Regions from separate parts of the Homo sapiens genome. Here region 1 is linked to region 2. Evidence: fine-mapped expression QTL. A gene starts in region 2. The other region holds a variant in brackets. All regions are shown on one strand. Distances are from middle to middle.

The links. PIP is the estimated chance that this variant, and not a neighbour inherited with it, causes the effect. A credible set is the group of variants that fine-mapping cannot tell apart.
Region 1: its variant is the best candidate, but not a certain one, in a credible set for the expression of GPRC5D-AS1 in monocytes after LPS (Quach 2016, PIP 0.59).

Annotation. Positions count from the first base shown.
Region 1 is chr12:13,011,090-13,016,477 of GRCh38, forward strand. All of the region lies in intron 2 of GPRC5D-AS1 (GPRC5D and HEBP1 antisense RNA 1), which reads left to right. Among named protein-coding and RNA genes, the nearest start is that of HEBP1, 14 kb to the left of the region's middle. The variant A/AT (reference allele first, on the strand shown) is at 2,526.
Region 2 is chr12:12,924,947-12,930,334 of GRCh38, forward strand. GPRC5D-AS1 (GPRC5D and HEBP1 antisense RNA 1) reads left to right here and starts at 2,780. Exons shown (of 3, transcript NR_149067.1): 1 at 2,780-2,857.

The DNA of each region.
Region 1 (5,388 bases), 86 kb after region 2:
GCGTGGGAGACAGGCAGTAAATAAACACATTCATAAATATGTAATAGGTCAGGTGGTGTGTGTTGAAGGCCAACGTATGTCAGTGTGGGCCACTTTAGATAGGGTGGTGACATTTCAACAGAGACTCCCCAAAAAGTGAGGGCATCACTGAGAAGATAGCTAGGGGAGAAGTTTTCAAGTCAGTCGGAAAGGCACGTGCAAAGGCCCTGAGGTGGGAGAATACCTGGCATGTTGAAGAAAGCAAGGAGGCCAGTGTGGCTGGAGTTTACTGAGAAGGAAGAAGGTTACAGGCAAGGGCTCCAGAACCAGGCTGCCTCGGTTCAAATCCCTGCTTACAAGTCGGGTGACCTTGGGCGACTTATTTACTCTCTCTTTGCCTCAGGGCTGTCATCTGAAAAATGGAAATAATGATAATGTGTACCTCAGAGGCTTGTTATGAGGATTAATAATTGCAAAGCACTTAGAACAGGGCCTGGCACATAGTAAGTGCTCTGTAAGTGAATCTTAACCTAAAAAAGGAGAAGAATGATGAAAAATCCAAATTGAAGCAACTATTTCAATATCATAAAATTACTAATCTATATTCTTTTAAAATGTCAATGTCTTAAAAGACAAGAAAAGGCTAAAGAATTGATTCAAATTAAACGAGACTAGAGAGACACTACAAGTAAATGTCATCTGTGATTATGGGCTGGACCCTGTGCCAAGAAAAAATACTCTAAAGAACATTAGTAGAATTAAATTGATTAAGTTAGCATACAGACTGTAGATTAGATAAAAGTATTATATCAATATTAAAGTTCCTGACATTGATAACTATATTGTGGTTGTGTAAGAGAATATCCTTGTTCTTAAGAAATACACACAGGGGTATTAAGGGGATAAGCGGACCTACTATCAAATGGTGTAGAGATAAGCTGTGACACACACACACATACACACAGCCTACTTCTTTAACCTAATATATTAAGTATCCTTCTCCTAGTTTCCTATACCGTAGCTGCATTGATCTCCTTGGTATTCCTTAAGAATACAAGTATGTTCTAGATCAGGGTGTAGGTATTCACTGTTTCTTTGCTTAGAATTTCTTCTCCCAGAAATTGACTTGAATGGCTTCTTTTCATCATTCGGGTCTCAAATCCCCTTTTCAGAGAGAGCTTCCTCGACTCCCCAACCTAAAGTGTCTCCTCTCCCTAGAGTGCTTATCATTATCTGAAAATAATTAATTCATTTCTATGCTTCTTTTCCTTTTTGTCTTTTTCTTCCCACTAAACTGTACATGTCATAAGAGGAGAGATCTTCTGGATCACAACTCTATCTTCAGTACCTAGAATAGTGTCAGAAACATAAGCTCTCAATATATATTTGTTGAATGAATGGGATGGGATGGGGTGGGTTGGTGTGGGATAGGAGAAGACTCTAGGAGGAAGGTCGGCAGCATGAACCCAGTTATTAGAGAGACTGTGGGTGCATTAGTGTCTATCATTCCATCCTACTACCAGTACAACTTTTTAAGAAGGGAGATATGCTTAAAAGAGGTTGGGAGGAGAAAGAGAGAGAAAGCACAAAGAGGAAAAAAGTATAAGATATGCTTATTTGAAACTTAGAGGTTGATCATAATCAGCAATTTTAGAGAAAAAGAGGAATCAAAGGAGAGGAACTTTGTTGACATGTCCAAAACAATTGTAATGTCAGCCATTTCTTTCCTTTTTTTTGCCAGAGTTTTGCTCTTTTGCCCAGGCTGGAGTGAAGTAGCTTCCGCCCCCCAGGGTTCAAGTGATTCTCCTGCCTCAGCCTCCTGAGTAGCTGGGATTATAGGTGCTCACGACCACCCCTGGCTAATTTTTGTATTTTTAGTAGAGACAGGGTTTCATCATATTGTCCAGGCTGGTCTCAAACTCCTGACCTCAGGTGATCGACCTGCCTGAGCCTCCCAAAGTGCTGGGATTACAGACGTGAGCTACCACACTCAGCCTAATGTCAGCTATTTCTTTTTGATGACATAATCCACATTAAAATTGTATCTAGAACAGTAAGAGGAACCAGTCTCCAATGACATCTAAATGGGTGTATTGTCCTTTATTTTGGAAAATTCCCCTTCCATCTTATTTAGGACAATGTTGTAAGTTTCCCACTCTTGGGATCAGCACCTGGATGTTGTCTTTGGCTCTCTTCATCCTTACATTTTCTTTTTTCCCTCCTAAATCCTCAATTCTTTGTGATTCTTCTCTTATATTACTCTCACATGTGGACCTATGATGTGGGTCAGTGTTTCTCAGTGTGCTTCTTGCATCTGCTGTATCACTTGGAGAGCCTGTTAATCATGCAGATTCCTTGGCCCCAAATCAGAATCTCTGGGACGGGTAAGCAGGGAAACTGGTAACTTTTAAAATTTTTCATTTTTTTAAGTAAAATATAGATTTCAAAAATTCAAAATATACTAAAGGATATGAAATAAAGAATTTTTCTCCTAGACTCTGTTTCTCAGCTACCCTTTCCCCTTTCTTAGAAGTATGCATTGTTGC[A/AT]TTTTTTTTTTTTTTTTTTTTTGAGACAGGGTCACACTCCTCCACTCAGGCCTGGAGTGCAGTGGCACGATCTCGGCTCACTGCAACCTCCGCCTCCCGGGTTCAAGTGATTTTTGAGCCTTAGCCTCCCAAGTAGCTGGGATTACAGGTGCATGCCACCATACCCAGCTAATTTTTGTATTTTTAGTAGAGACGGGTTTCACCATGTTGGCCAGGCTGGTCTCAAACTCTTGATCTTAAGAAACCACCTGCCTCAGCCTCCCAAAGTGCTGGGATTACAGGTGGAGTCACCACGCCCAGCCTAAAAGTATGCATTGTTATATTACTTTCATATATATTTTTCCAGAGTTTTTTTGTGCATAGACATACAAATACATGCATATATTTTTTTTCTCTACTTTCTCATTACACAAATGATAATGTACTATACTTATGGTTTCTGTAAATTGTTCTTTTGTTGTCATGTGCCAATGTATTTTGGAAATCATGCCATAGTGATATATGAGTAATGATTCACGTTTTTCCCAGTGGTATGGATTTTCATGTATGGATGTGCCGTAAATACTTAACAAGGAGCCTATCAATGGAGGTTCACATTGTTTTCAATCCTTTGATAATAGGAACAATATTGCAGTGAATAACCTCCGAAATATATCATATCCCACATGTATAAATATACCTGAAGAAAATTTTCCTGAGCCAAAGGATATGTACATTTAAAATTTTGATAGATATTGCTAAATTATTTTCAGTATAGGTTGGCAAACTCACCAGTGAAAACATCTGGGCCTTCAGATTTCTTTCTTGGAAGGCTATTAATTATTGATTCAACTTATTTAATAGAGCTAAAGCTATTCAGATTATTTATCCTTGTGTGAATTTTGGTAGTTTGTGTCTCTCAAGGAATTGGTCCATTTCATCTAAATTGTCAAATTTATTGGCATAGAGTTGTTTATAGTATTCTTCTTTTCTCCTTTTAATATCTGTGTGATCAGTAGTGATAACCCTTCTTTTATTTCTGACATTGGTAATTTGTGTCTCCTCTTTTTTTCTTGGGTAGTTTGGGTAAAGGTTTATCAATTTTATTGTTCTTTCCAAAGAACCAGTCTTTGGTTTTGTTGATTCCCTCTATTGTTTTTCTGTGCTCAACTTCATTGATTTCTGTTGTAATTTTTATTTCTTCTGTTCCTCCATTGTCTTTCTTGCTCTAGTTTCTTAGGTGGAAGCTTATTGGTTTTACATCTTTCTGTTTTTCTAACACATGCACTAAATTTCCCTTTAATCACTATTTTTGCTGCACCTCACAAATTTTGATAAGTTGTATTTCCATTTTCATTTAGTTCAAGATATTATAAACTTCCCATAAAAGATAAGTTGTTGAGCCTGCATAACTTAAAAACTGACATATTTGCTGACTACCCGTGCTTAGAGAAAAATGCAGAGAGCAATGTGAGGCCGAAGTTGTGGAAACAACGGAGGTTGTGAACCAAGAAAATGGAACAGGTTTTAGGTTAGCAGGGAAAGGTGAGAGAGAATTCCAGGGAAGAGTTCAGATAGTAATGCCTATTGGGAGAATCTCTATTTGGAAAGCATTTTATTTTAAATATATAAAATGCACAACAAAATTACCAATTTAACATGCAATTATGGGTATTCGTAATAATATTTTCTTTCTTCTTTTGAGACGGAGTCTCACTCTGTCTCACCCAGGCTGGAGTGCAGTGGCGCGATCTCGGCTCACTGCAGCCTTCGCCTCCTGGGTTCAAGCGATTCTCCTGTCTCAGCCTCCTGAGTAGCTGGGACTACAGGCACGTGCCACCACACCTGGCTAATTTTTTGTATTTTTAGTAGAGACGGGGTTTCACCATGTTGGCCAGGCTAGCCTCGAACTCCTGACCTCGGGTGATCCACCCGCCTCAGCCTTCCAAAGTGCTGGGATAACAGGCATGAGCCACCAAACCCAGCTCATAATATTTTCTGATTAATGGCTATAAGAAAGTGCTTTAAAATAATCAAAATATACCTTTTAAAATAAACAAATGAAAAAACAAAAATATCTTTGAGTTTCTCTTGAGCCTTATTCTTTGAGCCATGTGTTAGTTAGAAGTGTGTTGTTTAATTTCCAAATATTAGGGGGATTTCCTAGCTATCTTTCTGTTACTGATTTCTATTTTAATCCCATTGTGGTCTGATAAATTCCTTTGTATGATTTCTATTCTTCTAAATTTGCTAAGGTGTATCTTATGGCCCAGAATGTGGTTTATCTTGATGAATGTCCTGTGTGGGCTTAAGAATAACGTGTATTCTGCTGTTGTCGAATGGAATAATCTATAATGTTAATTAGATGAAGTGATTGATAGTGCTGCTCAGGTCAACTATATCCTTACTGATTTTCTGCCTGCTTGATTTATCAATTACTAACAAAAAGTTGTTGAAGTTTCTAACTATAAATAGTGGATTTGTCTGTTTCTCCATTCAGCTTGGACTTGGGCACATTTGGGATTGTTATGTCTTCTTGGAGAATTGACCCCTTTGTCATTACAGAGTGCCTCTCAATCCCAGAAGATTTTCCTCATTCTGAAGTCTGTTTGTCTGAAATTAATATGGCTCCCCCAGTATTCTTTTGATTAGTGTTAGAACGGTTTATCCATCTCTATTTTTATCTCTCTTTCTTTCTTTTTCCATTCCTTTATTTTTAATCTATCTGTCTTTATAATAAGAATGGTTTTCTTGTAGATAATGTATAGTCTTGCTTTCCTTATTCATTCTGACAGTGTCTTTTTTTTTTTTTTTTTTTGAGACAGGGTCTTGCTCTGTCACCCAGACTGGAGTGCTGGAGCGCAGTGGCATGATCACTGCTTAC
Region 2 (5,388 bases):
CCTCCCGAGTAGCTGGGATTACAGCTACTTGGCTGTACACCATGCCCGGCTAATTTTGTATTTTTAGTAGAGACGGGGTTTCACTATGTTGGCCAGGCTGATCTCCAACTCTTGATCTGCTCACTTCAGCCTCCCAAAGTGCTGGGATTACAGGCGTGAGCCACCGTGCCCGGCTAGAGCAGGCAGTTTAATGCTGGGCTCCCATAGTGGTAAGTCTTCAGGGTACTGAAATTTCGAATTTAGATTTATTTGTTGGTTTGTGTGTTTTTCTCTATTATATAGGCTTTAGAAGGACAGAAATTTGTTCTGTTTTTCTCAGTATTCCCTGAGCCTAGGACAGTGCCTGTACACATGGGTAAAATGAATAAACTTTTTGGGAGAAGGGTATTTTTTTTTCTTTTGTCACAGGCTAATTAGAATGATGTCCTTTCACTCAGAGAACACAGCCCTCAGGTTCTTCTCTTGTCTATTCTGGTGTCTTGAATGCCAATTTGTCTTCAAATAATTTTGATGAATTTCAGCTGATCAACCATCAGATTTTTGTGTGTGTTTCCATATAAGAACACTTAAATCCAGTGTGATAAAAGCAACTTACAAGCCCGAGGCTTGGAAGAAAGGAAAGGAATTTTTTACTTCTTGGGCTGAATACATTTCATCACATCCCAATTTATTTCCCTGAGGCTTTTCTTTGTCAAGCTTGGGAAAGTGCTGTTTCCTAGGAGAACCACACAAGAACAAACTTTAAATATGAGAAAAGAGAAAAGCACACCCCAAAGCAAAACAAAACAAAAAAAACCCCCAAAAACAATAAGAGAAGCATTTTAGATGGATTTTCTCCAAAGATCGATTGCATTGTGTTCCAAACGCATTTCTTTTCTTTCTTTTTTAAATTTTTTTTGAGATGAAGTTTCACTCTGTTACGCAGGCTGAGGTGCAGTGGCATGATCTTGGCTGACTGCAACCTCCACCTCCTGGGTTCAAGTGATTCTCCCGCCTCAGCTTTTCAAGTAGCTTCAGGTGCCCACCACCATGCCTGGCTAATTTTGTATTTTTAGTAGAGATGGGGTTTCACCACGTTGGCTAGGCTGGTCTCAAACTCCTGACCTCAAGTGATCCACCCGCCTCAGCCTCCCAAAGTGCTGGGATTACAGGCGTGAGTCACTGTGCCCAGTGTAAAGTGCATTTCTTTTCTAAACTGACTTGAACCAAAATGGATGAACAAGGACCCTTCAGATGATATACACCAAACTGGAAACAGATGAGAATGCCAGCAAATGGGCTCAGGAGGAATTTATCTTCTTGAATTTTCAGGCATAAGCTGATTTTGACAATGTTTTCTCTTACAAAAACAGGGTGAGCGTGTTCTGGATGGAGGCTGGGTGGGAACCCCAGGTCAGAGCAGATGTGGAACTGGGGCATGGGGAAGACTATACCCCAAAGAGGTGGGGGTGGGGAAGAAGATGAAAAGTGAAAGACGAATGTTCCCAGGGGCAGGAATTCATAAACTTTTTCCATTGATTCTGCCCTCTCAAGCCAATCACTTTCTGCCTTTTTGGACCAAATTGGGAAAGCCTGGACAGTCTGCTACAAACCAGACCAGAGCCTTTCCTTGTCAACAGAGCAGCGCTTCCTAAACTTATACTGCGTTAAAAATCACATGGGAATTTGTTAAAAATGCAGTGTCTGGAGGCCTCCTAGAGGTTCTGATTTAGTTGGTCTGAGTCAGGGTCCAAGAATTTGTATCCAGAGCAAGTATCCCGGCGATTCTTCTGCTTGGACAGGGTTGGGACAAGGCGTCGGCCAGTCATCCACATTGTCTTTTTGCAGATCCACTAATCTTCCATGCAGGCTCCAACAGCTCCTTCCCGGCCTGGGAACCCAAATCCGCAGGAAGAATCTCGGGGTGTTGTCTTGGCTTATTCATTCAGAGCTGTCGTGTGTGGTTCTGCAAACAGTACTCAGATGCGTTCCCTCTCCCCGTAGGGATCTTGCTGGAGATGCCCAGGGTTAACAGTGGAACTCCATATGGAGACAGAGGCATGGGGGGAGCTTCGCTGGAGATGGGACAGCCTGCTCCACCGCGAAGCCTACTGAGGCTCTCTTCTTACGTACCCCGCGCAATCTCATCTCCCTGAACAACTTCCACCTCCACCTTTCAGCTCATTCCCTAATGTCTGCTTCTGTTGGAACTCCACAATCTCATCTTTATCTGCCTAGGTGTGTTACAGTAGGTAGCTGTCAGGTATGAGCAGGGCAGGAGAGGGTCTGTTCCAATAGCAGGAACCTCAGGTGACCATCAGGTGATGGTCAGGCGGCTGTTAGTCTGTCGCTCTAAAATAATAATTGGTCGCAGCCGGTGCTAGGGAAAGACAGGCTCCCAGTAGATAGAAAACACCTGAAACGGGTGATAAGCAGCTTCCCGGTAAGATCTTAGCAGTTGGGCGAGTGTACTCAAGCATGAGCACTAACAGGCAGAATGCCAGAGTTTAACTGGTATATGACCTTCTAGGGACATTCGACTGATAAGGGAAGAACGCCTCACGTGAGCATGTGTACAACTCCTGCATGCGTACAAACACACTGCGCATGCTCCCCTCCCAGGCGCTGGCAGGCCACACACTGCGCATGCTCCCCTCCCAGGTGCCGGCAGGCCACACACTGCGCATGCTCCCCTCCCAGGTGCTGGCAGGCCACACACTGCGCATGCTCCCCTCCCAGGTGCTGGCAGGCCACACACTGCGCATGCTCCCCTCCCAGGTGCTGGCAGGCCACTGCGCAAGTGTGGACAGCCTACACCAAGGGAAGAGTCAGGGGAGAAGGAACACAAGACTCCGGAAGCATGCCAGCGTATAAAACCGTAAGTCAAAGGTCAGACTGTCCAGTGGGTGATCTCTCAAGTCGCCCGCTTGGCCTCTTCCAAGTGTACTTTACTTCCTTTCATTCCTGCTCTAAAACTTTTTAATAAACTTTCATTCCTGCTCTAATACTTGCCTCAGTCACTCCTGCCTTACCACAATATTTTTTAAAACAAAATCAATACCAAAAAGCCCATGATAAACAACATATCAAAATTTTATAAAAGCAGGCTGTTTGGTTTGTTTTACGACCTTGCGTTACTGCAAGAGAGGAGCCGTTTCCAATCAGGCTTTGGATCCTGGGCTTATGTGGCTGCTGTGTCCCTGCCATGGATCTGTGAGGGTTGACAATGGGGTACAAACAAATTGGGCAATATATATATACACATATATGTGTATATACATATATACACATATATGTGTATATATACATATATACACACATACATGTGTATATATATACATATATACATATATACACACATACATGTGTATATATATACATATATACATATATACACATACACATATATGTGTATATATATAATATATACATATATACACATACACATATATGTGTATATATATAATATATACATATATACACATACACATATGTGTATATATATAATATATACATATATACACATATACACATATATGTGTATATATATAATATATACATATATACACATATACACATATATGTGTATATATAATATATACATATATACATATATGTATATGTGTGTATATACACACATATATGTATATATGTATATATGTACATACACACACACACACACACATATATATAGTTTGTTTGTATTTTGAGAGGGAAGAAAGATGAAAGAAAGGGAGGGCTTAAAAAATTTTTTTTGAGACAGCATCTTGCTCTGTTGCCCAGGCTAAAGTGCAGTGGCACCATCATGGCCCACTGTTGCCTCAACCTCTCAAGCCCCATCAATTCTCCCACCTCAGCCTCCCGAGTAGTTGGAACTATGGGTGTGTGCCACCATTCTTGGGTACTTTCTAAAAAATTTATTAAAATATTTGAGACAGGGTCTTGCTTTGTTGCCAGGCTGGAGTGCAGCGGTGCAATCACAGCTCACTGCAGTCTTAACCTCCTGGGCTCAAGCAATCCTCCTGCCTCAGCTGCCTGAGTAGCTGGGTTCACAGGTACGTGCCACCACGGCCAGCTAATTTTTTTGATTTTTAGTAGAGACGGTGCCTTGCTATGTTGCCCAGGCTGATCTCGAACTCCTGGATTCAAGCAATCCTTCCGTCTTAACGTCCTAAAGTGCTGGGATTTCAGGCATGAGCCACCATGCCCAGCCTCTTGGATATTTTTATTAGATTTTTTTTTTTTTTTGTAGAGATGGGGGTCTTGCTGTGTTGCCCAGGCTGGTCTTGAACTCCTGGGCTCAAATCATCCTGCCTTGGCCTCCAAAAGTGTTGGGATTACAAGTGTGAACCACTGTACCTGGCCTTTTTATTTTTGTTTTAAAAGAGAGAAGAAAGGGAGATGGGGGGAAGGAGGCTTTATATATATATATATATATATATATATATATAATTTCTTATTTTTATTTTTTTTAGATGGAGTCTTGCTCTGTTGCCCAGGCTTGAATGCAATGGTGCGATCTTGGCTCACTGCAACCTCTGCCTCCCAGGTTTAAGCGATTCTCCTGCCTCAGCCTCCCTAGTATCTGGGATTACAGGTGTATGCCACCACACCTGACTAATTTTTTTGTATTTTTAGTAGAGATGGGGTTTCACCACATTGACCCAGCTGGTCTCAAACTTCTGACCTCAAGTGATCCACCTGCCTCCGCCTCCCAAAGTGCTGGGATTATAGGCGTGAGCCATCGTGCCCGGCTGAGGCTTAATTTTTTGATTGGAGACTTTTAAATGACGTTTTTCCACTTGGTTCAAAGCATGGGAAGATATTTTGATAAGCGCATATAGGGACACACACGTTTCCTTCTGTCTCGGGCTCCAAGAGGGCCTAGCACAGCAGTGCTCACTGATGATCAGGCCTCTCCTTCCAGTGCTCTTCACACACAGACCATGTCTAGATTCCTCCTTTCGGGATGGAAGCCCTGTGGGGGCAGAGCCAACCTCTCCCGTTGCTTCTCTCTTTGTCTATCTCTGCTCCAGCATAAGGAGGGCTTGCAGCTGGCTGAATGAGCCTTGGTTTTCCTTGCAGCCTCACCTTCAGACAGACTTTTCTGACCTGCATACCTGGTCCAATGCTGTCAGTTGACTAGTTTGGGTTTTTTGTACTGCTCAAAGGCACCCAGCTGAGATGGTTGGGGTGGGGTTGGAATCCAGTCTCACTGCTGGCCAAGCCCTGGATGCTGGCCTGAGGTCACATCCTTTGGGGTGGGGGCACATTTTCAAATTCATCCACTCAGAGGGGGCACATGTTTCTAACTCACACACAGTCTCCCTGTGTGTGGCTGTTCTGAGTACCATTCCCAACATCATCTGCTCAGGGAATTTCTACCCCCCATCAACCTCGTGTAAGACA